Regions from separate parts of the Homo sapiens genome. Here all the other regions are linked to region 3. The links come from fine-mapping of genetic effects on gene expression. A gene starts in region 3. Each other region holds a variant in brackets. All regions are shown on one strand. Distances are between the middles of the regions.

Region 1 (10,049 bases), 220 kb after region 3:
TCTTCTACACTTTCCCTTTTTCCTACTTAACAATATTTCTTTTTTAAAAATTTAAAAATCTATTTATTTTTTTCTTCAACTTTTATTTTAAGTTCAGGGGTACATATGCCAGATGTGCAGGTTTGTTACATAGGTAAATGTATGCCATGGTGGTTTGCTGCACAGATCATCCCATTACCTAGATATTAAGCCCAGCAAATATTAGCTGTTCTTCCTGATGCTCTCCCTCCCCTAACAATATTTCTAAAAAAATCATTCCATAGCACCATTTAAAGAATATCCTCATTCTATTTAAAAGGTTCATCGTTTTCCAAAGTAGAGACAAAACTTGTTTTTCTTTCTTTCTTTTTTAAAATCAGTCCTTTATTCATGGACATTCAGGTTGTTTCCAATGTTTTGCCACTGTGAACAATGCTCGGATGATAACAGCCAGCATTTCCTGAATGCTTACCATGTGCCAGGCCCTTGTTAAAATCCTTCCCATGTATCATATTTAATTCTCACTACAACTGTGACATAAGCACAGGGAGGTGAGTAACTGTCCCAAACCACATCTCTGTTTTTGTCCACAGGTGGGAGTGTAAGATAACCTTCCAGATAAAGAGTTGCTGCTACCAAAAGGTATGTCCATTTTATTTATTTATTTTTATTTTTATTTTTTTGAGATGGAGTCTTGCTCTGTCACCTAGGCTGGAGTGCAGTGGCACGATCTGGGCTCACCACAACCTCTGCCTACTGGGTTCGAGCAGTTCTCATGGCTTAGCTTCCCAAGTAGCTGGGACTACAGCCACTACACCTGGCTGACTTTTGTATTTTTTTAGTAGACATGGGGTTTCACCATGTTGGCCAGACTGGTCTTGAACTCCTGGCCTCAAGTGATCCACCCACCTCAGCCTCCCAAAGTGCTGGGATTACAGGCGTGAGCCACTGTACCTGGCCAGGTATGTCCATTTTAAAGTTATATAAATACAGCCAAACTGGCTGCATCGAGGCTGTGCTTATCTGCATCTCACTGGCAAGTAGATGTATGAGGGCCCATTGCCCTCCTCTCTCACTGTTGAAAAATTTCTTGATATCTGCCGATCTGAAAGGTAAAAAATGGTATTTCATTGTGGTGCTGATTTGCATTTTAATTTTACTTGTAGATTTTTAAAATAACACAGTTACAAGATTCAAAATTTGAAGAGTACAAGAGTAGAGACAAACCCCCATCCATGTGTCTCCCCAGTGCCCAGTTCCTGTCCCCAAACAAAATCAGGCCTCCATTTGCCTCCATTTCTCCCTCCTATGCCTATGGTCAAAACCTGGGCCACACCATTATCCTTAGCTGCTCCATCTCTGAAATATTAAATTCAAACATTCTACTCTGATCTCGCCACTGTCCTATTAACTACCAAGCACCTGACCCTCTCTTGATGCCCCACCTGCCCTTTACCTTACCTTCCTTTCCCATCCAGCTGAGGTTCTCTGCCCTCCAGAGGCTCCATGTCAGGCGCCACTGGGCTCCAGCCACACCTGCCTGGAAAGCCTTACTTTCTGTTTCACGATACCTAGTTCAGAGTCAGCCCACCCATGGGATCACTCTCATTTAAAGATCTTAGGCAGAATAACCACATAATTTACTGCTCAAAATGGGACCCTTTTGAGAATGAAAGGAGCACAACTAATTATGAAGCCAAGACAACAGGGGCAGATAGTTACTGTCCAAGGCAGATCGGGATGCAAATTCAAGCTCAATCTTAAGGAACAATTACATTTAATTTCGGAGCAGAGATCAATAATATGTGCTGAGCCCTGCGAATGATTTAAGTTGCTGCCTTTGTCCGCTGCCCAAGCTTCTCTTCTAAATGGATTTTTTAAACAGTGCATTTCCCTAACACTATTTTCTTAAAACTTTATCCTTTAGAATACCAGTTTCGGCCCATAAACTCAAGTGTGTAAAAAAATTAGTTTGTTTATAAAATTCTCCTTCATCTGTACTTGAGCCCCGCTCTTTAAAAAGGTGCTGACCCTTAATCCCAGTCAGTTCTGAGTTTCCTTTGCAGTTTCCATTTTGGGTTTGGGGTGGGGTGGAGTGCAGGGTTCTAGACTCTCAGTGACCTACAAAGGGTCCTGCCCTTCATGTCATCTATCCTTGTCCCATCTGGTCCTGGGTCGTTGGTGCCTGCAGGTTATTGTGGAGGTCAAAGTCTCTCTCCACCTCTTCAAGCAGCCTCACTCAGGGAGCTTGCCTGGGGTCCTCTTGGCCTAGATACACCCAGCAGCTGTTCTGTTCCCTGCTCTCAGATCCACAGATTGTGAGGGATGCTGCTTTCTCTGTGGGGCTCAGTCCAGGGAGCGGGGATTGGGACCTCAGCCTCCAGGACCTAGCAAAGTCAATGTTTCTCAACTTCCCTCCAGCCTTTGTCCTTGCCCTGGGGAATTATTCTTGGATATGAGTGAGGGGCAGGGAATGCCTTGATCTTTCTCATGACCATTTTCTCCCACACTTTGGTCTAGGTCTAGGCCAGAAGTCTCTTCTATTCCCCTAAGGAAAGAGGCTCCTTACCTCTTCTTTCTGTTTTCACACACCTTCCCTGCAGCAATGAGCATAGAATGGCCTGGCTATTTGAGGCAGGGAAGGGAGAGAGGTAAGGGGAGTATCAGGCTGGAGAAGGCATTGGCTAATATTTCAGAACATAATCTTGCAAGGCATATAAAAATATCTTATACAAGATGTGCTTCCTGTTTTAACTATTATGATTTTATAATTTTTCAGATCTTGTAGGCAAGACTCCCTATTCCCATCCCCCAGGCCAGGGCAGCCAGTTATCAGCTGTGTGAACTTGGGCAAATTATGTTATCCTCTCTAAGCTTTAGTTTTTTCGTCTGTAAATGAGGATAATAGTAGTTCATATCAGTGCTTCTACTTGCCAAGCACTGCTCTCAATGTTTCATGTATGTTACCTCATTTAATACTCATCATAAACCTATGGGATAGCTGCTATCATTCCCATTTTACAGATGAGGAAACCACTTCTCACAGTTGTAACTTGCCCAAAGTCATGTGATCTCCTGCTCTTAATCACTTCCCCAACCTGTCTTTCATAAATATTAATAATGACCTCAGCCAGGCGTGGTGGCTTACTCCTGTAATCCCAGCACTTTGGGAGGCTGAGGTGGGAGGATTGCTTGAGCCCAGGAGTTCAAGACCAGCCTGGGCAACATATTGAGACCTCATCTCTACAAAAAATTAAAAAGTAGCCTGGTATGGTGTGGCACCTGCCTATAGTCCCAGATATTTGGGAGGCTGAGGCAGGAGAATCGCTTGAGCCTGGGAGGTCAAGGCTGTAGTGAGCTGTGATAGTGCCACTGCACTCTAGCCTAGGTGACAGAGTGAGAATGCTGTCTCCACAATAAATAAATAAATAAATGAAATGACCTCTTGAGGTTGCTGTGAGGATTAATTGAGGTAAGGTATGTAAAGCTGTCAGCCCTGAGCCTAGCACATAGTAAAAACTCAGTACATTCTAAGCTCATACTTTAGCCATGATTTTTTGGTCATTTTCATTCAAAATGCCCTTGGAATTGTATTTAAAATATATATAAATGTCTGAACTTAAGCATATTTGCCCTATTCAGTTTTCCCATCCAGAAATATGATGTCTTATTATGTGTTTCTTAGCAAAGTTTTGCCACGTGTCCTCATATAAAACATGCATTTCTAGGCGAGTTTATTTCTAGATGTTTTAGGGTTTTTGTTTTTATTGAAAATGAAATCTTTTCCTCCATTGTATCTTTTGATCAGACAGTGCTGGTGTCTCCAGGTTCTTATTAGTTAATCAGCTCCCAGATGTCTCTAGAGGCTATGTCTTTCCATAGCCCTCTTATTTTAGGTTGACATGAAGATCATTTGGCCCAGCCAGTGACATACGCTCTGAGAGAGAGGCACAGGGGCACAGGGTGAGAAGTAGCTTTCCAGGGTAGCTCAGGTTGGCTGAGGTGATCAGAGAACTGTCCTTTGGCTAAGGAAGTACAGCCTGGGGAGAGGGGAAGGAAGGGGCCAGCCCTTGCTTGGCTGCATGCTGTTTCTGGGTCCATTTGGGGATCTGTCTGAAGAACGAGTTCCTAGGTACCCACATTTCCTCTGTGGCCTCAATGATTCCCAATAGTGTGTGCCAAATGATGGCTCCAGTGGCAGCTCTGCCAAGGCCCAAGATGCCTCCGTGGGCTCTAGCTTGCT[T/G]AAGTAGAGAGACTGTCATCCAGCAATGTCTCATTCTTCATCATGTGATTAAGAGCAGGAGATCACATGACTTTGGGCAAGTTACTTACAACTGTGAGAAGTGGTTTCCTCATCTGTAAAATGGGAATGATAGCAGCTATCCCATAGGAAGTGGAGGATACATAATCTGTGGCGTCCCTGAATCAGCTCCCTGCCTGACTCCACTGCAGACCTCCAGAGGGCAGCAGAGAGCAGGCAAGACGGGAGAACAGGACTTGGTTCCTGGAGAAGCAAAAAAGACTCTCTGCTCCTGCAAGCTGCTAGGAATACTGCTCATCCCCCTCCCCGCCTCCTCAGGATACACATGTGAGCTTCTTCCTGAGGGTGTAATAATTATAATAATATTATTAGTTAATACTAACTATTCCCTGTGGGCCAGACATTGACCTAAGGTTTCACATTGATTCAGATAACCATTGAGGTAGATATAATTATTATTCGCATTTTTTTTCAGTTGAGGAAATTGCAGTGAAAAAAAAAAGAAGTTGTCCAAGATGCCACAGTTAGTTGAGTCAGGATTTGGACCCAATCATTTATGAGCCAGGCTCTATTCTAGGTATCAGAGATACATCAGTGAATAAGACAAACTTTCTGCCATATTGGAGGAACAGACAAAAAGTGAACAAATGAATAAACACATACTGTGGTTTTGGATAGAAATGCCATTTAGACAAATAAAGCAGAGTTAATGACCAGAGAGGGGCATTTTAGATGGGCTGGTCAGGGAAGGTTTTCTTGGGTAGATGGCATTTGACCAAATAGTTGAATACACGAGGTAGCAAGTCAGGCTGAAGATTAGGGAAACAGTAAGTGCAAAGGTCCTGAGGTGGGAATGAGCCTGGGGTGTTAGAGGAACAGCAAGACTTGCGTCGTGGCTGCTGTAGAGTGAGCCGAGTCCATAGGCCACAGCAGCGATTGGGAAGTAGATAGGGGTGGTGAAGAAAGAGAACTCCTCCACAGCATCACCTGGGCTTGGCCTCTTACAATGTCTCAGCTTCTCTTTAACATATCTCTCACCTTTTTTCACCTTCCTGCAGAGTGCTGACACCATCACAGTATGTTCCCTTCTCAACCCTGGACATGGTTCAGAAACAGCTAAAGCAGACAAGAATCTGGGGCAGCCAATATTGTACCACCTGCCAAAGCTTGGCACAAACAATCTGGAAGCCAAAAATTGCACATACTGTGGTGAGTACTGCCCAGCCTGTGGGGAACTTCTTGTGGGTAAAGGTTCTAGATAAGCCTGCCAGGGCCCCCAAATGAATCCTTAGTCCCATTAACAAGGGCCTAAGTCCCGCAGGCCTTTCCAGGGTAGGAAGCTGCTATTTTCTTCAAAGAATTTTGCCCCCATGCCATGGTCCTAGGTCAGACCTACCTAAATCCTTTCAGATGTCAAACCCAGGTAGGGTTCAGATGGCATTTAGCCAGGAGATGGAAGGGAATCCGTCCCAGTGAGCAGCCATCACTGTCCACCAGGTATCTGAAGAAAATGGAGGCACAGAGGTCAAACAGTCATCCCTCAGCATCTGCAAGGGATTGGTGCCAGGACCACCCGTAGATATCATAATCTGAAGATGCTCAAGTCCTTCACATAAAATGTGACCTATGCAATCCTCTGTTTATCTTAAATCATCTCTAGATTACTTCGAATACCTAATACAATGTAAATGCTATGTAAATAGTTTTTTATACTGTATTTTGGGAGTATTATTTTTTATTGTTGTATTGTTATTTATTTTTATTTTTTCAAATATTTTTGATCTGCTGTTTGTTGACTCCTTGGGTTAGGAACCTGTGGATATAGAGGGCCAACTGTACTAAGAATCTTTAGCTCCCTCTCCTGGCAGATCCCTGGCGAGTGAGGTGGGCCTATGTTGAGTGCTCCTTTTGCCTGAGTGAGAGCCTAGAACCAGAGACTGAATGCCCTAATCCAGGATTTCTTGATCATGGCACCATTGATAGTTGGGGTCAGATAATTTTTTTGTTGTGGGGGCCATCCTTGTAGGACGTTAGCAGCATTTCTGACCACTACCCACTAGAGGCCAGAAGTACTCTCCCTCCAGTAGTGACCTTCCCTCCAGTATAACCAAAATAGATCCAGACATTGCCAGATGTGCCCAGGGGAAGACACCTGTGGCTGAGGAACACTGGGGCCAGTTCTTTCCCTTTCCCCAAGACCAGTGCATGAGCCTCAGCTGTTACCACTCTGGTGGTGAGGAAGAGTTGACAGTATCCCCCAAGCATTTACTTCAGTGCCACAGCTGAGTGGCTGGCTTGGCATGTCCTTGGCTGTAACATGGAAGGAGGCCAGAGGACAGGGAGCAGAGAGAAAAGGGGTAGCCATATCTTCTCTCAACATTTTTTGGCTTACAAAACTAAACCACAGGGAAGGGCAGGGATGAGGTTGGCCATACACATCACAGGACTAGGTCTTTCTCTCCCTCCTCATCTCTCTCTCTCTTTCATGCACATACATGCGCACACACACGCACACACACACACACACACACAAATGGACACCCCTCTGCCATTCTGTGTATTGGCTTTTCTCTCTCCCACTGAAGACAGGCTTTTTCCAGAGACAAAAGAGTACTTTGTGCAGGAGGAAAAAGTTAACGAATGGACTGATTTTGCCCAAGAGATTGGCAGGGCAGGAATAAGAGGTTATGAGTATCAATGAGAGAAGAGAGGAAAGGATTCATTATGATGTCCAGACCAGAAGGGGAAGTAAATGAAGCCATGAGGAGCTGGTATATGGGGAGAAGAGGAAGATGCCTGAAGATCAAAGGTCTTCATGCAGTTGAAAAGCAGGAAAGAAGGGAGTCAGAGCTTGGGAAGTTATCCATTAAGAGTCCCAACATCTGACCAGAACTGTCAATGTATGTTTATTTTGCTTCAGCGATAATTTCACTTAGACACATAGAATCGTAGGGCAGTAGAGTTTCAAAGAAACTTAAGAGATCCTTGAGTCCAACCCAGTCTATGTGGACTCTTTTACTAATTCTTCAGTGCTGGACTTTGAGAATGAGACTTGTTCACAACCCCTCTGTGCTTAGAATCAAATGAGAAATAAGATATAGAAGTCCAGCAGCTGGAACTAAAATAAATTTATGACAGCTAAAGCTGATTGGAGAATGTGGTTTTGAATGTACAGTTGGGCTTCCTAATTCTTTCCCTCAGAATGAAACTTATCTACCCAGAACTGGAAGACTCCCCTATCCCACAACGCAAGAACCTGCCCTTCCTAGGGCAGGTTGAAAAGAAGAGGAGAGGAGGGAAGCACAGGCCTTCTCTGAGGAGGCTGTTCCCAGAAGGAGGAAATCCAGAAGAACCTGAGTCATGACATATGCCCATTTTATGTGCTCCAATTCTCCAAGCACACGAACCACTCATCCTCTGCTAGATAGCATGAGTTTAGAGGTAGAGCAGTAAGTGGAGAGTACTTTTCTCAAGGCTGCAGCAAGGACAGAAGTTCCCACTTTATAAGGTGAGGCAAAAGTGCTTGGAGGGAGAGAGGTAGATTTCCCCCTGACAAATGCCATTTAATAGAGCAAACTCTGCTCCAAGAACACTGAGGCCCAGAGAGGTGATTTCCCAAAGGTACCATGGCTCTGAAAGAATAAGGGTCTCCAGACTCCTAATGGTGAAATTTCACCATTTCACATGTGTAATCAAAGGAGGACAGGTTCTTCCACATTTATCAGCATAATAGCAACAACAATCTTCTATTTCTTCATGCACAAGGCCTTCTAACTCCTTCCTTCATCACTATCACTGCCTCCACATCCTCCATCTACACCTTGCCACCTCTATCTACACATCACACCCTCATCCACACCTCACCACTACCATCTACACCTCACTACCCTCACCTATACCTCACCACCTACACCTAAACCACACACCTCCATCTAGACGTCACCACCTCCATCTAGACATTACCACCTCCATCTAGACCTCACCACCACCATCTAGACCTCACCACCCTCACCTATACCTCACCACCCACACCTAAACCACACACCTCCATCTAGACCTCACTACCTCCATTTAGACCTCACCACGTCCATCTAGACCTCACCTCCTCCATCTACACCTCACCACCACCATCTATACGTCACTATCACCATCTACACCTCACCACCCTCACCTATACCTCACCACCTACACCTAAACCACACACCTCCATCTAGACCTCACCACCTCCTTCTAGACATCACCACCTCCATCTAGACCTCACCACCACCATCTACACCTCACCACCCTCACCTATAACTCACCACCTACACCTAAACCACACACCTCCATCTAGACCTCACCACCCACATCTAGACCTCACCACCTCCTATACCTCACCACCTACACCTACACCATACACCTCCATCTAGACCTCACCGCCTCCATCTAGACCTCACTGCCTCCATCTAGACCTCACCACCTCCATGTAGACATCAGCACCTCCATATAGACCTCACTGCCACCACCATCTAGACCTCACCACCCTCACCTATACCTCACCACCTACACCTAAACCACACACCTCCATCTAGACCTCACCACCCCCATCTAGACCTCACCACCTCCATCTGACATCACCACCTCCATCTAGACCTCACCACCACCATCTATACCTCACCAACCTCACCTATACCTCACCACCTACACTTACACCATACACCTCCATCTAGACCTCACCACCTCCATCTAGACCTCACCACCACCATCTACACCTCACCACCCTCACCTATATCTCACCACCTACACCTAAACCACACATCTCCATCTAGACCTCACCACCACCATCTACACCTCACCACCCTCACCTGTATCTCACCACCTACACCTAAACCACACATCTCCATCTAGACCTCACCACCATCTAGACCTCACCACCCTCACCTATACCTCACCACCTACACCTACACCACACTCCTCCATCTAGACCTCATCACCTCCATCTAGACATCACCATCACCATCTACACCTCACCACCCTCACCTATACCTCATCACCTACACCTATATCACACACCTCCATCTAGACCTCGCTACCTCCATCTAGATATCACCACCTCCATCTACACCTCACGACCACCATCTACACCTCACCACCCTCACCTATCTCTCACCACCTATACCTACGCCACACACCTCCTTCTATACCTCACCATCACCATCTACACCTCACCACCCTTGTCCACACCTCATCACCATGTATACCTCATACCTCCATCTATACTTCACACCACCATACACTACCTCACCATCTCCATCTCCACCTCACACCTCTGTCTACAACTTACCACCTCCATCTACATCTCATCACTTCCATGTAAACCTCACCACCTCCATTCACATATCACATTTCCATCTACACTTCACCCCCCATCTACACCTCACACTTCCATCTACATCTGATCACTTCCATATACACCTCACCATCTCCACCTTACACCACCGTCAATACCTCAGAACCTCCATCTATACCCCATACCACCATATACATCTCACCACCTCTCTCTACATGAACCTCATCATCTCTGTCTACACCTCACACCTCCATTTACACCTCACACCACCTCCATCTACACCTCACCATGTTTGTTTGTTTGTTTGTTTGTTTGTTTGAGATGGAGCCTCGCCGTGTTGCCCAGGCTGGAGTGCAGTGGCACTATCTTGGCTCACTGCAACCTCCGCCTCCTGGGTTCAAGCAATTCTCCTGCCTCAGCCTCCTGAGTAGCTGGGATTACAGGCATGTACCACCACATCTGGCTAATTTTGTATTTTTA
Region 2 (10,049 bases), 20 kb before region 3:
GAGTTTCTTTTCTTGTTCTTAGGTATGGTGTCTGCCACATCTGCATCTGGGCTCTGGGTGGGAGAAGCACACCTGGTTCTAGATTCAAGCCCAGCTAAAACAGCTTTCCCAGCTTTGGGACACTCTGCTGAGACCACAGTTTGGGTATTTCTTAACCCAGGCTGCAGTAAGAATCACATGGGGAACTTATAAAAAATACCAGTGTCTCAGGGTGGGGAACATCATACACCGGGGCCTGTCATGGGGTGGGGGTTTGGGGGAGGGATAGCATTAGGAGAAATACCTCATGTAAATGACGAGTTAATGGGTGCAGCAAACCAACATGGCACATGTATACATATGTAACAAACCTGCACATTGTGCACATGCACCCCAAAACTTAAAGTATAATAAAATACCAGTGTCTGGGCTTCACCCCCAGAGACCCTGATTCAGTTGGTCTGGGGTAGGGCCCAGACATCAGTATCTTTTTCAAGTTTCCTAGATCGGGGTCCCCAACCCCTGTGGCCTGTTAGGAACTGGATCAGCAGGAGGTGAGCAGCAGGTGAGCAAGCATTACCATCTGAGCTCCGCCTCCTGTCAGATCGGCTATGTCATTAGATTCTCATAGAAGCCCAAACCCTATTGTGAACTACACATGCAAGGGATCTAGGTTGTGCACTCCTTATGAGAATCTAACTAATGCCTGATGATCTGAGGTGGAACAGTACCATCCCCCACCACCCCATGGAAAAATTGTCTTTTATGAAACCAGTCGCTAATGCCAAAATGATTGAGGATTGCTGCCCTAGATGATTCTTACTGCAACCAGAATTGAAAACCTCTGCCAGATGAACACAGCTGTCCAGTCCTAAAGCCTCAGGACCGGAAATGGAGAAGTCAGGCACAGAGGAAATAAGAGGAAGCTGGAGTCCTAGGCAAAGTCCCTCCTACTGACTTCCTGTGCTCTGGGACATGTCAGGCTGAGGGCCGTCTCACCCAGAATGAATGTCTTATTCACAATGTCTAATGTGATAAGACCTAATGTCTAGGTCTTATTCACAGGGCCCAGGAGGGCCAGCTGGATCTAACATCTGTTCTGCCACTCTATTTTTTTCTATGTTGTTTTTTACCTCATATTGCAGTTAGTACAGTCATTTCACAAGTCACTAGCATCAACTACCAGCCTTCTCAGAAGTACTCAACATTTGTATATTCACAAGTTTGTTATCACTATTCAAGCCAGGTATACGTTTTATTGAAGAACTTTGTAATATCAAGGATTTAAGCTTGTGTAACAGATCATCATACACTATGGCATATGCAGTTACCTACTGGAGCAGAAGCTTAATGCAGAAGAGTAAAATACCTAGATGAGTAACTCCTACCTAGCCTAAGCATTCCTCAGAACTGTTGTCTGATGCCACTGTGATGCTCCAAGGCCCAGAAGGTCCTAAATTCATGTTTCTTTGGGGAATTAAAAAATAAGCTATTTCAGGAACTTATTCCTTTCCCCCCACTCTGAATGTCCCTGAACGAGCCCACAGAGAAACAGTAGCAGTCATCTGACTGCCTGACTTCTGCTTTACTGCTCTTCCTTCATCTGACCTGCACTGTTGCCAAAGCTTAGCCACAAGGAAGCAGCAGAAGCAAGATTTCCTTCTGTGATTGCCAAAGGGCCTCTGCATATTTTGGCATTAGCTACCTCCTCCACAGAGGATACATGTTCCTCAGACTGGATCACAAGCCAGATGTCTCACTATGAGACAACTGCTCAGCCAGCCCAGAAGTAAAACAAGTAAAGATCATGTCAGACTCTTGAAGATAAGTTAACTTTTATGTAGAGCGATAGAGATACTATAGCTTCCAGACCTGTTCTCCCTTTCCAAACCAGTCAGGCTTTCCTCTTTCCACTCTCCTGCCTCCTCCTATCCCTTGCTTGCCTGGTAGAGATGGAATGGGTAGCAGATGTTGTCTCTTAATGGCATAGCCTAAGGTAACTTATTACCCACAATCCTTCCTCCAATTGTAGTGTGTCTGAAATGTAATCTCCTTTTATTGTAGTGTGTCTGAAATGTGATCTCCAAGAGCGACTGCTCTGCCCATCCCTACTCGCTGGCACAGCTGACGGCTCCTTGAGAATGGATGACCCTAAAGGAGACTTCATCACACTCTACCAGATGGCTTCCCAGTCATCGGCCTCTCATTACAAGCTCCAAGTGATCAAGTATGGTCCAAGGGAACCTCCCCAATCCATGCAAATGCTATTCTTAGTGGTTCTGTGGCTAGGAACTCCAGAGATAGATGGTATCTCTTAAGTGTCAGGCAGGCAAGAGTCAGTTCCGAAGTAGCAGTTACAGCTATGGCATGAGGAAGCAAAGACAGGCTACTCAGCATGTGGAGGCCAAATGTGCAGATGGTGGGAGAAGCGCTGCAGTAGAACACTCTGAGGTCTGCATGAGGATTGTTTTTCTTTTGACTCATTAAAAAGGTGTTTATCCATTTAGTAAATGTTTATTGAATAGCTACTTTGTTTAGGCATCAAGACAGAGATCCAACCTTCAAGGAGTAAGTGGTACATAGGATCTACCCCTGCCCCCTCCCATTTCTCTAAGTACTAGAATTCCTTCTTCCAGGAGAACCAATTGTAGGATAGAATTAGCAGACTAGGCACGGTGGCTCATGCCTGTAATCCCAGCCACTCTGGGAAGCTGAGGCAGGAGGATCGCTTGAGCCCAAGAGTTCAAGGCTGCAGTGAGTTAATTGAACCACTGCACTCCAGCCTAGGTAACAGAGCAAGCCCTTATCTTGAAAGAAAAACAAAACAAAACAAAAAAACACAATGAATTAGCAATAATGGCAGAGTCTGCTTCAACTCTTCCCAGTTCCTACCACTGTGCCCATGCACAGGTTCCTGAACTTTGACAATCTTCTGTGTGCTAGATACTATGCTAGATGCTGGCCATACAAAGATGCATAGTTCACAGACACTAATTTAAAAGCTTTCACAGTACTGTCTTAGAGTTAAGCTGAATTGAAGTGGATCTAGGTGGAGGTTCTAGATATCACTAAGGAGTCTTTGACTGTAATTATCTCTTCCTAGGGCTTTAAAATCTAGCGGGCTCTGCGAGTCATTGACATATGGACTCCCGTTCATCCTCAGACCTACAAGCTGTTGGCAGCTGGACTGGGATGAGCTGGAGACAAATCAGCAACATTTCCATGCTTTGTGTCACAGCCTGCTGGTGAGTACCCATGTCCCCAGGTGAAAAAGAAGAATCGTTTTTAAAGTACCAACCACAGAAAAGCAGCTAACTAACTCTGCCCAATCCTAAATCTGCCTCAACCCTCAAGAAGACAGAAAAAACTGGAAATACTCTGAAATTTGGAGTAAATATGACTTGCCTTTTGTTGGTTTCATGCTATAGAGAATAATTCCTGAATTCAGTTATACAACACTAAACTTGAAAATCCCCGATTGGCAAGCTTAACATTTAAATGGCAACAGGGAATTTTCCGTACGTACCTGTATTTTAAAACCTACTTCCTTCCTAACACTGATAGACGTTATGGTTCATTTAAATGAAGAGCATTTAGTCTATGCCAGACATTGTGTCAAGCCCTAGATATATATTCTGTAGTGACCTAAAAGACATTACCTATGACCTTAAGAAACCCACTCTCCAATGGAAGAAACAGAAATGTATATATTCTTAATTATGAGAAGTTTATAAAGGAAAAGAAAAAGCTGCTATAAGAAAGCCTGTCTATAGAAGTGACATTTAAACTAAGACCTACAAGATAAGTGAGAATTAACCAGGTGAAGGGTGGCAGGCAGAGCATTCCAGGTGTAAGGAAAGGCATGTGCAAAGACCCTAAGGCTGGAAAGAGCTGAGAGAAAAATCAAGAACAGAAAAGCCATTGTGACTGAAACAGGGAGGAAGGGAGAGAGTGACAAAAGGTAGGGTTGGAGAGGTGAGCAGGGGTCAAATCATGCAAAGCTTTGTAGGCCAAATTAAGGATTTGGACTTAGGGAAACAAATCATGAGAAATAACATTATCTATTTCAGTTTTTAAAATATTACTTGGGCAGAAATTTGGAAATGAACTCGCAGAAGCAAAAATGGAAACATGAAAATGAGCTAGGAGGGTATTGCAGTAGACTAGTCAAGAGACCGTGGTGGTTTGAACTAGAACATTGGAAGTCAAGATGAGATGAGCAAACCAATTAGAGAAATATTTTAGAATCGCTTCTTGGCCTTTTAGCTATGACCAAGTGTAGAAATATTTTAGAGAGAAGATTGTCAGAACTTGGTTGAGAGATTGGATATAGGGAGTGAGAAAGAGGAAGTATCAAATAACTGCATGGTTTCTGACTTGAACAACTAGATGGATGTCATTCCCTGAAATGGAAAAAATAAAAGCAGTCACATGAAACTAACACAACACTTAGCAAAATTAAAACAACTGCAAATAGAATGCAAGGACAGATATAGAATAAAGGTTTGACTTAGTAGGATGATCAGGACAGCACAGCAATGCATCTCTTTCACTATCAGAAGCAGACTTCTTTTTTTCCTGTTTCGAAGCCCGCACTCCCTTTTAGGTCCACCCACTGA[G/A]TTCCTGTTTCCTGTCTGAAGAACACCCATCTCCTGTCTTTGCAGAGCAGAGACAACGGAGCCGTTGTAACTGTTAGTGCCCAACAGCTCAGTTTACTATTTACTCCACCCAGTTCCTCAGAATCTGAGATGATACATCACATGGGAGGAATTTCTCCCAGGTGGCTTCAATACATTCTTACAGTATTTGATATTTTAAACATACATTGACATTTTAATACACTGCTAGAGAGGATGTAAATTTTCCGGAAAATGATACCCTTTCCTTTTGCTGGGAATGTAGCCAAAGAAGACAGTCAGGAAAGGGATGAAGATATATGTACCAGCATGTTCATCTCGGTGTTATTTACAGTGGTGAAAAATTAGAAACAACTCAAATGTCCTAAGTAGGGGAAAAGTTATAGGAACTATAACCTGGTGTGGTGACTCACGTCTGTAATCCCAGCACTTTGGGAGCCCAAGGCAGGTGGATCACTTGAGGCCAGGAGTTCAAGACCAGCCTGGCCAACATGGTGAAATCCCACAGCTACTAAAAATACAAAAATTAGCCAGGCATAGTGGCACGCACCTCTAATCCCAGCTACTCAGGAGGCCGAGACATGAGAATCACTTGAACCCGGGAGGCAGAGGTTGCAGTGAGCCAAGATCGCACCACTGCACTCCAGCCTGGGCGACAGAGCAAGACCCTGTCTCAAAAAATAGTTATAATAGGCTGGGCACGGTGGCTCATACCTGTAATTCCAGCACTTTGGGAGGCCGAAGTGAGTGGATCACAAGGTCAGGTGTTCGAGACCAGCCTGGCCAACATGATGAAGCCCTGTCTCTACTAAAAATAAAATAAAATAAAAAATTAGCTGGGCGTGGTGGCAGATGCCTGTAATCCCAGCTACTTGGGAGGCTGAGGCAGGAGAATCGCTTGAACCTGGGAGGCGGAGGTTGCAGTGAGCCGAAATCGTGCCACTGCACTCCAGCCTGGGCAACAGTGTGAGACTCTGTCTCAAAAAAAAAATAGTAATAATAAGGATGGGAAAAAGTATTCCCTTCCATCCTGGCTTACATACACGAGATTAGAGTCTCCCTGCCACTAAACTCAGGGTTTGAGGATCTGTATTTATCTATCTGTCTATTTATTTATCAAATATTTACTCACCACTGTATGCCAAGCACTGTTGTAGAGATGAAGAGACCTTTTCTTTGTTAGTCTTCTGTCTTGGAAAAGGGCAGGGATGTAGTTGACCTGTCACTAGTAGATACCCATATTTTGGAGCATTTACTAAGTGGTAGTCACTTAACCAAGTGTTTTGCATACTTTACCTCATTTAATCCTCACAATAATCTGAAGTAGAGATTGTTATCCCAACTTTTGCAGATGGAGGAGGCTGAGGCCTAAAAAGACCAAGTAAGTTACCTAAGGTCACACAGCTACCAAAGTAGTCTTGTCAGAGTTTGAGGACCTAGCTCACACATGTAATCCCAACACTTTAGGAGGCCAAGGCAGAAGGATCACTTGTGCCCAGGAATTCAAGACTAGCCTGAGAAACAGAGTGAGACCCTGTCTCTATTAAAAATTAAGAAATTAGCCAGGAGCAATGACTCACACCTGTAGTCCCAGCTACTCGGGAGTCTGAGGTGGAAGGCTTGCCTGAGCCCAGGAGTTCAAGGCTGCAGTGACCCATGATCGCACCACTGCACTCTGGGCGACAGAGGGAGACACTGCTTAGGGGGGGTGGGAAAGAAAGAAAATTTAAAAAGAATTTGAACCTAGTTCTGTTGACTACAAAGCCCATGTTTTTAACTTCTTTGCTAAATTCCCTACTCTGGATGTAGCCAGATAAATACAGACTATAACACTGAAGCTAATTCTCCTTCACTTACACCCTATGCTTCTGTACTTCAGCGGAGTTGAACTCACTTAAAATGGCACAGTACTCATAACAACGGCTTACTCATCTTGTACTGCTGTTCTCTTTACTCCGTTTGGTCCACCTCATCTAGATTAAAGACCACTCTCCTATTCTGGAAAAGACAGCAGCAAAACAGTTTTCTTTCTTTTTTTTTTTTTTTTTGAGACGGAGTTTCGCTCTTGTTGCCCAGGCCTGGAGTGCAATGGCACAATCTTGGCTCATCACAACCTCCACCTCCTGGGTTCAAACAATTTTCCTGCCTCAGCCTCCCGAGTAGCTGGGATTACAGGCATGCACCACCACATCTGGCTAATTTTTTATTTTTAGTAGAGACGGGGTTTCTCCATGTTGGTCAGGCTGGTCGCAAACTCCCAACCTCAGTTGATCTGCCCACCTCAGCCTCCCAAAGTGTTGGGATTACAGGTGTGAGCCACCGTGCCTGGCCGCAAAACAGTGTTTAAATGCCTCTTCCTTCTTGTTTTTCACATGACATTTTCTCCAAGCAGCAAAAATCCTGAATGGCAGTATGTTATAGAGTACAAACTTTTCACAAACTTCAGCTCATTAATTCAACACAAATATTTTTAAGTGTGACGAGACTTATTTAGGGTTTTAACCTCCTAAGCCTATTTTTACAAGTTTGCCATGCTTCTTTAACTCCATCTTTGGTTTTTTATTCTTTCATATACCTTTTTCATATGTTCTTTTAAAATCTGATTTCAAGTCAGCTCCATATTTAACTCTCTTGCCTTCTGTTTTTCACTGTAATGTTCCCCTCCAGCCAACTTCTCATTCTAACTTCTGCCTTTCTGTTAATAGCAGCACCGCCATTGTCTAGTCACCCAGGCTTGAAACCTCAGTCACTTTCAGCCATCTCACCCTTTACACCTACTCCATCACTAAGTCATATCAATTTTCCACTCATAACATGAGTTGTAACTCTCCTTTACTTCCTGTTCCCACTGCTTGTCTCACCAAGACTTCTTCAGTAAACTCCTAACTGGCTTCCCTGCCTCCAATCTCTCTCTCTTCTGGTTTTCCCTGCACATTGGCACTAGCTTAATCTCCTTGAAGCATTCCCCTATCACATGTTTTTCTATGTATCAATACTCAATCACGTATTACACCTTGCCTATTCTATCCCTATAGCATCTGTTATCACTATCCTAATTCAAGCCCTTTTAACCTTTCCTTTAATACTGCAATAATCTCTCAACTTGTCTCAATGCTTTTTTAGTGCTTCCCATTCCTAGTCCATTTCACATAATGCCAACAGATTAATCTTTTGATTAATCTGATTCAGCACTGATTCTGCCACTACTCAGCTGAAAAATACTTTGTGGCTTACTATTGTTTATCCATAAAGTCCATATTCCTTAGCCTAATATTCAAGGTCCCACCTTATCTCCCATTATTCCCCTTCATGTACCATACACTCCAACCAAATTAATACAGAAACCTTAAATTTTTCCACCTTTGAGCCTTTGCTCATGTTGACCTTTCTCTCATCTCTGTGTGTTCAAATCCTACCCTATCCTGAAAGACCAAACTCAAATGGTACTTCTTGAATGGGAGCTCTCTAGTTTCTTCCACTTGTCATTAGACATTTGTATGCTGTTTCTTTTTGGAGAAAAACATATTTCAAATAGGTTTTTAAATATAGGATCCTATGTTTGAGATTAAAGTCTCAGATATAATTTGACTACCCAAACTCCAGATTGACATAGTGCCTTTTCTATCGCTTCCCCACTTTACTAACCAATTCCTAGGCTTTGGTCAAATTTAGGCCCAGAATAGAAATTCCCCCCTTTCTTACTTCTCTTTTTGGAGGAGTCAAGGCAAGGCAGTTTTCTAATATGTTGTAGTAAAATATAATTTGTGTTGTCCAGGAAAATCCTGGACTGTGGAATCAGACGGCCTTAGGTTCCTGACGCTTTTTTTATTTCCCGACTGTGTGAACTTAGGCAACTTGCTTACCCTCACTAAGTATTGGTGTATTCATCTATTTGTAACCCTAACAAATTTAATGGCCCCTACGTGGCTTAGTCTCTGCACAAATGGCATATATGGAAGCACTATCAGAGGCCCAAAAGTAAATTTTAAAGTGATTTGTGTATTCAAAGGACACCAAAAAGGATCTAGTTCATAACCCATAATGACATTTCTCAAATTTTCTTCCCCCACTCCTCAATTATCTCTAACCTGAAGCTGTTCCTAGAACCTTTCACACACACACACACACACACACACGCATGCACACACACACATACACACACACACACAAATTATCTCTACCTCCTCAGTCCCTGTTCTCTCTCAATCCTCTTCCTCCCTCTCTCAGCCATATATTATAAATTGACTTAGCCTCTCTGACATAATGTAGTCCTCCTCTCTCTCAGGTCCTGTCTCTTTCTACCTATTTAAAATACTAAGAAATAAAGCTGATAAGGCTTCTCCTTTAATCAATAGAAGTAGAGTGAGGGAGGGCTGGGCACAGTGACTCACACCTGTAATCCCAGCACTTTGGGAGGCAGAGGTGGGCAGATCAACTGAGGTTAGGAGTTCAAGACCAGCCTGGCCAACATGGCGAAACCTCATCTCTACTAAAAATACAAAAATTAGCTGGGGGTGGTGGCACATGCCTGTAGTCCCAGCTACTCGGGAGGCGCGAGAATCACTTGACCCCAAGAGGCAGAGGTTGCAGTGAGCCGAGATCGCGCCACTGCACTCCAGCCTGGGTGATAGAGTGAGACTCCATCTCAAAAAAAAAAAAAAAAAAAAAGTAGAGTGAGGGAGAAGGTGCATGACACACACATTAGTAACTCTTGTCCCATCACATATAAAATATAGACAATAAAATATACCTCATGTGGTTTTTAAGATGATTAAATATTGCGTGTGTAAAGCACCCAGCACATGTCTAACACATGATTTCCACATAGTGGTTGGTTAGCAGTTCTACAATTTCCATTTGTTTCATTTTTGTAGATTCTAATTCTCTGAAGAAATTCTCCATATTTTCATCTAATTTCTTAAATATACTAATCATGGTTATTTTAAGGTTCTTGTCACCTAACCCCAATACCTGGATCACTTATGGATTTGTTTCTATTGTCTCTTTTTTCTCTTGGTTTTCAGACATGTGGCACATGTCTTTTGTCACACCTGGCAATAACATATATAAATAAATTGTAGAGACTCCAGCTGGTGTTAGCTTTCTCTAGAGAGGGCTCACCCTTCCCACACTAGGCAGACAGAGTGGTGGCTGAGCATCCTGTTTCACTAGAAACTGTGCTGAGTCAAGGCTGGGCTGCAGTCCTGCTAATGCTCAGTCTATCCAGGGTTTGTTCCTGGCCCTCCAGAGTTTTCCACTGAAAGCCTGGTGTATTATGTATATCCCCTCCCTTTGGAAGGTCCCACCTCTAATCACTGGCTCCCAAGTCTGCTAAAACATTCTACTTTTTGGAAGCTTTCTCCTTAAGTGTTTTTGCCTTTTGCCCCATGGAGCCCTAATATTTGGCAAATGTGTTTGGGGGAAAATTGACTT
Region 3 (10,049 bases):
ATTCATAACTCAGAATTTCTTCTTGTAGCTCTGTGTAAGCAGGTGGATGAGGTCAGATCACCTTTGGTAAACTGGACCTCAGGAACAAGGATGAGGTTTTGAAAGCTCATAAAAGACAAGTAAGATTGAAATCCAAGCCTCATTTCAGAGCCTGTGCCCTTCCCACTACACCACCAGGCTTCAGCCTCCAAAGAGACAAGTGCTTGGTACCTACATGCAAAGTGTGTGTGCTGGGGGGTGGGAGGGCTGCCCAGAACAGGGGAGAGGATGGTGTAAAAAAAGACCTACTCCTTTCCTGTTACCCTCTCCCCACATGTACCAACCTTCCTGTTGCTCCCTCCATCCACAGAATAATAGCTACCATTTATAAAATGTTTACTCTGGGCTGGGAGCAGTGGCTCACACCTGTAATCCCAACACTTTGAGAGGCTGAGGTGGGATGATCACTTGAGGCCAGGAGTTCGAGACCAGCCTGAGCAACACTGTGAGACCCCCCCGCCATCTCTACATAAATAATAAAAACTTTTAAAAAAACACCCTGTGCTTCAGATTACACTAAATACTTATAATGTATCTAATTTCATACAAAAAGCCCTGTGAGGTAGAGCCCATTATAGCTTTTCCATTTTACAGAGGGGCACAGGGGAAACTGAGGGTTGCAGATGTTATCACCCAGGGCCACAGAGCTCACATCTAGCCCAGGGCAGCTTGACTTGACTCCCCAGGCACTGAACCGCCACACTTCTGTTCCCTTCCTGGGCCCCTTGCCTCTCCGTGACTCTCAACACATTCCTGGTTCTCCTCTTGATCCCCACCACACCCAACCCAACCACTGTGTCCCCTCTTTTTCTCTTCACACACATAAACTTCTTAAACCCAAGCTGACTTTAATGAGAATTTTAAAATTTTTAAATAGGTCTCTGGCAAAGAACAATGCAGGAGTAAGGATCCAGGCACAGTCCAACATCTCCCTGAGGCCTCCACACAGGCCCCTCAAACTGCACCCATTCTGACCATGCACCACTTTCCACAGACCTGGTCCCACAGCCGTCCCTTCATTTGGGGAAGTAGGGAAGGGATGGCTTTGGGGGATGCAGAGCCCATCCTCAGCCCTGCCATCTGCCCCACTTCTTAGGACTTCCTGGGATTGTCCTTCCCTTGACTCTCCCATCCCTCTGGTCCCCTGGTCTCACACAGCATGGCCCCTCCCACCCTCTGGCTTCTGCTGGTTCTAACCATCTTCTTTGATCCCTAGTGCCACCTCCCCATGGTCCCCCTTAGCCACCTCAGCCTTGCCGTCCTTCTCAGGTAGAGCCCTCTGACTTGACCCCAGTCTTGTCAGTCCCTACTCTAGAGAGCCCACAGTCCCAGCTCCCTGAGGCCCCGCTCTTCTGGACCTGGCTGTACAGGGCTGAGTTGTGGCTTTTGATGCCACTGCCAGTTGCAGTACCAGGTTCAGGGAAGGCTGGGCCCTGGGGCTTGGGAGCAAGGAGGGGCTTTGTGCTCCGAGGGGGTGGCACAGCGTAGTCATCAGTGGCAGGGTTGTAGGGGAGCTCATAGCCCTCCTCCTTCACCCGAGCTTGGCACCACCATGCATCCTTGGGCTCCCGAGGCAGATCATAAAGGCCCTGGGGAGGGACTGGGGCCAGGCCCTCAGGTTCATCATAGATGGGATCCTCTTTGGGGTCTGTCAGCTTGGCCTTCAGCAACTGCTGCTGCGCATGCTCATACAAGTCCCAATAGAGAGGTTTCTTCCGTTGTACTCCCTCTCCTGCCTGAGCAGACGTGCTGTCCAAGGGGTCTGAGTATAGGGAGTCCTGGGAAGGGCATGGAGCAATGCGCAGGGAGTCTAAGGGCTCAGCATACAGGGCTGGGGGACTGTCGAGGAGCTCTTGGGGGCCAGGTGGGGAAGGCAACTTCCCCTCTGCCACCTCCCCTTCATGGGAGTCAGCTCTGAGAACATCGTGCCCCTGTCCGGCCTTTCCCTGGGCCTTCTGCCGGTGGATGGCAGTCTCAACTGCCTGGAAGATGTCATTTCCCTGTGCCGTCTGGAAGGTGAAGGTTCCAGGGCCTGAGGGGCAGCGGCGGCCGGCCTCGAAAGAGAACATGACCTAAGGAGGGTAGAGGGGGAAACACATTACCAGGAGCCATCAGAGGAAGTGAGTCACACGCCTGCACTAGTTAGGGTATCTACAAAGAAGAGACCACCTGCGAACAGACGCGGGGTCACCGGGTAGGCAAGAAAGGGGGATCCAAAGGTCAGAGCTTCCCACTTTCTGTCCTGCCCCACCCCTCCCACAGCTGCCCAACCCAGGAAGCCCTCCCGGACAGCCCCTGCACCTTGTCCCGGCCATAGCGACGCAACAGAGTGTAGGGCCAGGACAGGAGTGGCTCCAGTATCTGACTCTGGGCCCCCACGGTCAGGAGAGTCAGCCTTTCAGCCTCCACCCTCAGCACGTAGGAGCCATGCAGGCCACAGCGCTCGGCGGCCTCAGTCCTCTGCACCGTTACCCAGAATTGGGATCCTGGAAGGCATACACGATTAGACAGCTGCGGGGGAGGGACGGGGGCAGCAGTGGGGACCCAGAGGACTCATGAGCATAGTGTCCAAGCACTCACTCGGAAGCCAGATCTCAGGGCCTTCCTACTTCTTACTTCCCCATGGGCCCCTGGGTATCCACCCACTTCCCAAAGGCCCTCGGCCCTCCTCCTCTTCACTCCATCCCTGCCCGGGCTTCTGAGGCGTCTACCTTCCCAGGTAGGGCTGTACAAGGAGTTCTCCAGCATCTCCAGGGCAGAAAGCTTAGGTGGGTTATCGGTAGGCGCCAGAGTCCAGCTGCCTTTCTGTAGTAGAGAGCATCGAGAAACCCGTAATTTCCTCAGCGGGGAGCGGGGGTCGGTCTGAGGCAGCCCCATTTCTCTGCCTCTGTAACTGCCCCCACCCCGCATCGCCGCAGCTCCTCACCGGAAAGGCGTTTCGGCACAGCGTCTGCACCCAGGCTGCACTGGACGGCGCGTCGGCCGCCAGCAGGTGCGAGCGCTGAGCAGTGTCCAGGCGGAAGGCAGTGGCGCCGGGCTCAGGGGGGGTCTCCACGGTGACGGGGGCCACACTCACACACTCAGCCAGACGGATCACTTTGCAGTCCAGGCGGCGCGAGCTCCCTCGGCCACCCCCAGAGCTCGACCCCTTATGGTCAAAGAACTCGAGCCGCGCTACGCCGTGGGGACTGGCCGGGTAGAGCACGGCCCAGGTCTTCCTCCACCTCTAGGGAGAGAGAGAGAGTGCTCGAGAGGGAGTGGCGTGCGCAGGCGGCCCGGGTCCCGACGGGGAAGGAGGTTGCGGCGCAAGTCGATTTGGGATCTGGGGCTTCCAAACGGGGTTGGGGGCGAAGTTTCCCAAGGACGATGCCACTCCGTCTCCCCAGGACCAGAACCCCTAGACTACAGACGCTTCCCGGGAGTGTGCAAAGCAACTTCACGGGAAAGTCACAGGCTCTCCAACTCCCGGCGCCGCTCTCCAGCCCGCTGCCCACCTCTCCCTGTTTCTGGGCTCTCTCACCCACTACTAGCCCGGATAAGGTTCGGCATCCATGCGCCAGACTACCTTGGTCCCAAAGCGCTGACTCTGCAAAAAAAGCGGCCCTTCCATCACTGCTCCGTCCATGGCCCCCGGCGGTTCCTTCCGCGCTTCCTGGCCCTGCGGCGGGAGGCGGGGCGGGAGGCGGGGCCGGGTTCCCTGGAGGAGTTTCCGCCCCTCCCCGGCCCCCGCCGGCAGCCGCTGGGGGGGTCGCGGTGGGGTGAGGGAGAGGAGCGAGAAGGAATGGTGGAGACCCCCGGATTAGCCGGGAGCTGCAGCACCCCAGGCCCCTACCCGCCGTCGTGGGGGCGCGCCAGTGGCTCCACCGAAAGTCCTCGGTTTTGGCGCGAGGGCCCTGGCCTCTGGGCGTGGTGGCTGCGCGTGACGTCATATGCCCAAGGTGACGTCAGAGTGAAAGCCATGACATCACCCCGAAAGCGCCCCGGGCACCGGAGAGACCCACACGGGCCTCCGGGGCTTTATTTACCCTGGCCGGGCCCGCCCCCAGCCCCGCCCGAGCCGGGCTGTTTAGACTCCGCTGGCCCGGGACTCGGAGGGAGGGCTGGGGTTGAACCGCTTCCCGCCACCACCGGGGCCGCCCCGCCGCCCGGCCGCCGCTTGCATGTCAGCTCCCTGACCGCAGAGGCCTGGCCTCCATGCCGCGGGAAGAGAAAGCTTCATTGAACGAGCCGGGAGGGCCAGGGAGGGGGAGGGGGCGCGGCAGTGGCCAGCTCCACGGGGAGGGAGGACCCAGAGGAGGAGAGGAGGGAACTGGCCGGGAGGAATGGAAGGAGAAGGCGGAATGTGGGAGGGCTCAGGGGGATGTGGGAGGGACGAACGGAGAAGGGGGAGAGAGGGGGGTCCAGTCTCCCCTGGCCGAGCATTTTTTTTTTTTTTTGGAAGTCCTAGGACTGATCTCCAGGACCAGCACTCTTCTCCCAGCCCTTAGGGTCCTGCTCGGCCAAGGTAGGGGGAGTCACGCTAACCGCAGAGGGAATGAGTAGGGGATGGAGAGGATGTGGAGGGACCAGGGAAAACGGGTGGTGTGGGATGGAGTCGAGGGGAAGCCACCCAACTGAGAGTTTGATTCTTGTCAAAGGGCAAGTGAGACAGAGTACACGGAGGAGGCACATACCGGAGGCGGGGGCTACGGGTGTTCGAACAGGGCCGCCAGGAGCGCCCTAAGGGAGGGGGCTCCTCCGGGAGGCGCTGCCCCTGGGTCCCCAACCCAGAACAAAGCTGCCTTGTTGGATTGATTGTTTGGGTTGGGGGAAGCATGTTGACGGGGGCTTGCTGTAGAGGGGCTGTTCTCAGCCCTAGGCAGAGAAGGCCTTGGCTGAGGAGCCATAGCGCCTGGCCTCCCGTTGCCCGGTGACAGGGATGGTGGTGTTGGCAGGAGGCTGGGACAACCCTACCCCATCCCCCGCCCAGCCTTGAGGCCTGGCCCTCCTGGGCCTCTTGACCCTGCAGGGCATCTGAGAGCCTGCGTGTTGGGGAGGGCGTGCAGCAGGTTCTCCAGGCGAGCTTTGGTGCCAGCCTTCCCTGCCTGGGAATCTGCTGGGTTAGGACTCTGGGCTCCCATTCAGGGGATCTGTGATCCCAGGGCCGCCTAGGGCCCCTTACGTGCCTCTCTGCACAATCAGTACAGCTGTCTGTCCTCCCTCTGAGTAAATGGGGTCATCTGGATCCCTCCCACGTCCGCCCCTTGGCTCTTGTCAATCCCTCTCCTTCTCACCCGCGGTGTGCTTGGTTCCCCTATACTGAGTGCTTAGTTCTTTGCCTATCACTTTCTATCCGTTGTCTCTCTCCTCTGTGTCTTTCTGGTTTTCTCTCTCTCATTCCCACAGTCTCCCTTCCTCTCACATCCTGTCTGTCTGGGTCTTCCTCTCTCTCTACGTGTCTCTTGCTCAGTCTCTATCTCTTTTTATTGACCCTTCTCTGACTCTCGATCTCTCATAGTTGTCTCTTATCTCTGGGTCTCTCAGGCTGTGCCTCTATGACCTGTGCCTCAGCCCTTATTTAATGTGTTTCTCTCCCTGTCTCTTGGTCCCTGGGGCTCTTTCTCTCCTGTTGTCTCTCGCTGTCTCTGTCTTACTCAGTGTCTGTTTTTCTTTCGTGACTTCTCCCTCTCTTTCTGACTCTGGGCCCCACTCAATCTGTTTCTCTCACGCACACTTTGTCTCTGGGGCACCCAGGCCTTCCCTGCCATGCGACCTGTCAGTGTCTGGCAGTGGAGCCCCTGGGGGCTGCTGCTGTGCCTGCTGTGCAGTTCGTGCTTGGGGTCTCCGTCCCCTTCCACGGGCCCTGAGAAGAAGGCCGGGAGCCAGGGGCTTCGGTTCCGGCTGGCTGGCTTCCCCAGGAAGCCCTACGAGGGCCGCGTGGAGATACAGCGAGCTGGTGAATGGGGCACCATCTGCGATGATGACTTCACGCTGCAGGCTGCCCACATCCTCTGCCGGGAGCTGGGCTTCACAGAGGCCACAGGCTGGACCCACAGTGCCAAATATGGCCCTGGAACAGGTGAGCAATGATCCAGGCATATCCTAGATATTTCCTATGTGTGGCCAAAGTGCAGGGAAAGGGAACACGAGGATGGCACAGCCATAGGGACACACGACACCAAGAACAGCCAGCATTGAGTAAATCCATGGATGACAAACCAAGCAACATAGTTACTTCCCAGAGCTGTGTGACCTTAGGCTAGTCAGTGCTTTCTCTGAGCCTCAGATGCCCTGTATGCAAAATGACTAGATGATGTCTAAGTTCTTTTCTGCTGCAAAAGTATGATCCTACAAAGCCATCCACAAAACAGCCCAGATACAGGTGAGCCCTGTACAAATAAAGTACAGTTAGTCTCATGGGACGCTAAGAGCAGGTAAATGATATCTGGATGTCCCAAAGTCACAAGGGGTCACAGACACTGCAGCTAACAAAATCAGGTTATGGGCCAGAGCTAAAACTAACAAGGTGGTACTGTCTAAGGACAAGTATAAAATCTAGGACAAGTATGAGTGTGGGTGGTGGAGGCTTAAGAGCAGTTCCCTAGGTGAGGCCTAGGACTGTGCCCATGGTATGAACCCACAGTGGGAATGATGGACAGAAGCAGGTGCAACCTGCAGCTGATTCCCCAGTTCCCACTGGCTAGACCACCTGTGGAATTAAGTGTCATTTGTAGATGCTGTGTTTTAAGAGGGACAGTAGAAAATGGAAATACTTTCAGAGGAGAGCTGCCTAGATGTGAAAGATTCAGAAGCCAAGTTTCAAGGAGGAATTGCTGAAGAATCAGGGGATTGATATGGAAAGTAAAAACCTTGCATAGCAATGGCGTAATGGTTGTTTTTAAATATGGGAAGGACAGTCGTGTGGCTGAAGGATTTTTCTGGTTGGCACCAAAGGAATGAATCAGATGTGGTAGGGGAAAGTCATGAAGAGTCACAAGGACTTTGATGGTTACACAGTCTGGTGGGGCAGGAGCTAGGTGTCTCCGCAACAACTGGGTAAGTCCTGTTGGGATGTGAATGAGATGTCCTTGAACATTGGCTAGGACAGATGACCTTTGAGGCTGCGCCCAATTCTGAGAGGAAGCCAGTGATACTCCACAGGGTTCAGGCCGGGCTCAGTGGCTCACGCCTATAATCCCAGCACTTTGGGAGGCTGAGGTGGGTGGATCACCTGAGGTCAGGAGTTCGAGACCAGCCTGGCCAACATGGTTGAAACCCTGTCTCTACTACAAATACAAAAATTAGCCAGGTATGGTGGCACATGCTTGTAGCCCCAGCTACTTGGGAGGCTAAGGCAGGAGAATTGCTTGAACCTGGGAGACAGAGGTTGCAGTGAGCTGAGATCATGCCACTGCATTTCAGCCTAGGCAACAGGGCAAGACTTCGTTTCAAAAAAAAAAAAAAAACAGGTTTCAGACAGAGAGAAGAACAAGGGGCTATATGGCAGCACAGACAGGGCGGGCACAAGAGAGAATGCAAGGATGTGAAGAAAGGATCTTAGACATCCAAGCCTCACAGATAGATCAAACTCCTAAGCCCCCACGTATTGGCTTTATGGTCTTAAGCAAGTTGCTCAGCTTCTCTAAACCCCAGTTTCTTTATATAAAACAGTGTTCTGGCAGCTCTGTTCTAAGAATGATCACATATGTGCACACCATGGCAGAGCACCTGGCACACAGTAGGTACCTGATTAATTGTAGCTATCAATGAATGGGTAGAGACTGATCAGAACTTCAGGGTTGATTCTTGGTTTTTTATTCACCGTATCAGGTTCTTGAGTATCCCCAGATCACACCAATTTTCCCTCAATCTTATGCCCCCTTCCTATTCCCTGCCAGGGTCCCCTGTCCCGTCTCCACCCCTTATCATACCAGAAAGATGGGATCATCATGGCCAAGTGGGAGGCCTCAGCACTCACTCTTCCCTACATCCCCATTACTCCCCCATCCTCCCTCCCCAAGCTTCTCTGTCCCTTCATCTCCCCTTCCACAGGCCGCATCTGGCTGGACAACTTGAGCTGCAGTGGGACCGAGCAGAGTGTGACTGAATGTGCCTCCCGGGGCTGGGGGAACAGTGACTGTACGCACGATGAGGATGCTGGGGTCATCTGCAAAGACCAGCGCCTCCCTGGCTTCTCGGACTCCAATGTCATTGAGGTCTGCATTTCCTAGACATACACACACACACTACCCAGGATAGCCGAGAGTACTGTGGGGTGGTTAGCGGAGACATTAGAAGGTAGTTACCCCTGGGGGATCATTTGGATTGGTGGGAGACTTGGAAAAGCAAATGATAGAGCTCCCAGATGCTGTAAAATCCAACAGGTTTTTAGCATTCACATTCAAGGGGCTAAACCTGGCATGAGCCTCTCCAGCTTCATCCCTAGTCACCCCTGGGGCACCTGGTGCTCTCCTTCTCCTCAAATGTTCCTGCTTTCCTGAGACATCTTCCTTCTGACTTTCTCCTCCTTCAAAGCCATTTCCTTTTTGAAGTGCTCCCTCCTGCTCCAGGCACAGGGAGGGCCTCCTTCCTAGTGCCCTGAATCCTCTCTGGGAGCACAGCACATCCCACGCGCTGCTGGCTGCAAGAGAGTCCACACCGCGGACTGCGGCCATCGTGGCCGCTCTCTCAGCGCCGCCTCGGGCCCATCCCGCCACTGGGTTTACAGCAGGCACACCAAGCAGGGTTCCTTAAGGGCGGCGGGACACATGAAAGGTGCCACTGGGATTCTTTCCCTGCTTGTGGCCCCGCCCCCAGGTAGAGCATCACCTGCAAGTGGAGGAGGTGCGAATTCGACCCGCCGTTGGGTGGGGCAGACGACCCCTGCCCGTGACGGAGGGGCTGGTGGAAGTCAGGCTTCCTGACGGCTGGTCGCAAGTGTGCGACAAAGGCTGGAGCGCCCACAACAGCCACGTGGTCTGCGGGATGCTGGGCTTCCCCAGCGAAAAGAGGGTCAACGCGGCCTTCTACAGGTGAGGGGCCGCGGGCGCCGGGCGGAGCAGGCCGGGATTGGGGTGCTCCCTGATGAATAGCCTTGGGAGACATCTGAGCAGGTCCGGGGCACGGGAGGACCCGGGGGTCGGGACGCGCGGGAAAATATGGAGGCCGTTGCAAAGCTGGAGAGTTGGGAAATCTTGTGGGACCACGAAAGGTGCCCCAAGGGAGTACCTGAAATGGGGACCAGCGAGGCTCCCGCTCTCTCGTGGCCGACGCCTGGGCGGGCAGGCGGATTCCTCGGCCCCGGGGCGCGCGCCGGCCTCGCGAGGCCACTCCCAGGCGCGGGGGCGATTCCAGCGCTGGCGCTGCCGGCCAGCGATTTCCGAGTTCAGTAAGGACGCGGCCGCCCCTGGGAGGCGGCGCCTGGGTGTGTCCCGCGCAGGCTGGGCGCCCAGGGTCCGGGGGCCCGGGGACGGCGGCGCGCGATGGCCGAAGGGCGCCAGGAGAGACCGCGCCAGTCTCTCTGCCCGGGCCGCCCCGGGGCGGGGCGCGTATGTGAACGCTCGAGCCCTCGGGGCTCCTGGAAGTCCTGGAAGTTTCCCAGGATCTCTTTTGGCGAGGCCCAACCTCTCCACCTGCGCTGGAGCCCTGGGGTCCAGTCCGGCTTCCAGGGAAACGCATCACCCTGGAAACTGCCTGTGCTTAACGTCTCCCTTCCCTGGAACATCTACTTTGATCTTTTTGAGAAACTGCCATTGACAGCCAGGCATTTATTTGGAAATCTTTACACCCTCTCACTGTAATCTATTTTGCGAGCCAAAAATCCTCCCTTTCTTCAGTGGTTCCCTAGATCAGTATTGCTGAAAGGCCTCTTGATGTCCGGATAGGTTTCCGCGGGCACACTACTTCAGATGGGGTCTGATGCCGCCAGCTACTGTAGAAATCCTCAACCCCGACTGAAGCGTGCTCGGATTACACTGTCTTCCTACTGCGGCAGCTTCCCACTGCTTATACTGAACTTGTCATCACTTAAA

Alleles and levels. Positions count from the first base shown, and alleles are read on the strand shown. Sizes are in standard deviations (SD) of each study's normalised expression. Not every link is listed here.
For the expression in whole blood of the gene that starts at base 4,477 in region 3, A is the low allele of the variant in region 2 and G is the other (large effect, 1.0 SD a copy in Lepik 2017).

The links.
Region 1: its variant is fine-mapped to the expression of LOXL3 in whole blood (INTERVAL, PIP above 0.99).
Region 2: its variant is fine-mapped to the expression of LOXL3 in whole blood (TOPMed, PIP above 0.99).

The regions. Positions count from the first base shown.
Region 1 is chr2:74,329,427-74,339,475 of GRCh38, reverse strand. It overlaps SLC4A5 (solute carrier family 4 member 5), which reads left to right. Exons shown (of 31, transcript NM_133478.3): 3 at 573-621; 4 at 5,299-5,449. Among named protein-coding and RNA genes, the nearest start is that of SLC4A5, 9.0 kb to the left of the region's middle. RefSeq lists an enhancer at 4,340-4,529 and a silencer at 6,032-6,121. The variant T/G (reference allele first, on the strand shown) is at 4,223.
Region 2 is chr2:74,568,613-74,578,661 of GRCh38, reverse strand. M1AP (meiosis 1 associated protein) reads left to right here. Exons shown (of 11, transcript NM_001321739.2): 6 at 2,044-2,206; 7 at 3,083-3,224. Among named protein-coding and RNA genes, the nearest start is that of DOK1, 19 kb to the right of the region's middle. RefSeq lists enhancers at 79-178, 998-1,177, 6,209-6,418, 7,416-7,515. The variant G/A (reference allele first, on the strand shown) is at 4,599.
Region 3 is chr2:74,548,370-74,558,418 of GRCh38, reverse strand. It overlaps LOXL3 (lysyl oxidase like 3), which reads left to right and starts at 4,477. Exons shown (of 14, transcript NM_032603.5): 1 at 4,477-4,543; 2 at 5,773-6,097; 3 at 8,071-8,234; 4 at 8,836-9,050. The coding sequence starts at 5,785. DOK1 (docking protein 1) reads right to left here and starts at 3,699. Exons shown (of 5, transcript NM_001381.5): 1 at 3,605-3,699; 2 at 2,966-3,265; 3 at 2,751-2,844; 4 at 2,341-2,525; 5 at 868-2,111. The coding sequence starts at 3,664. The coding sequence ends at 1,305. It overlaps M1AP (meiosis 1 associated protein), which reads left to right. Exons shown (of 11, transcript NM_001321739.2): 11 at 1-536. RefSeq lists enhancers at 3,398-3,457, 3,082-3,599, 5,083-5,377 and silencers at 3,608-4,357, 5,083-5,377, 5,363-5,657, 9,323-9,642.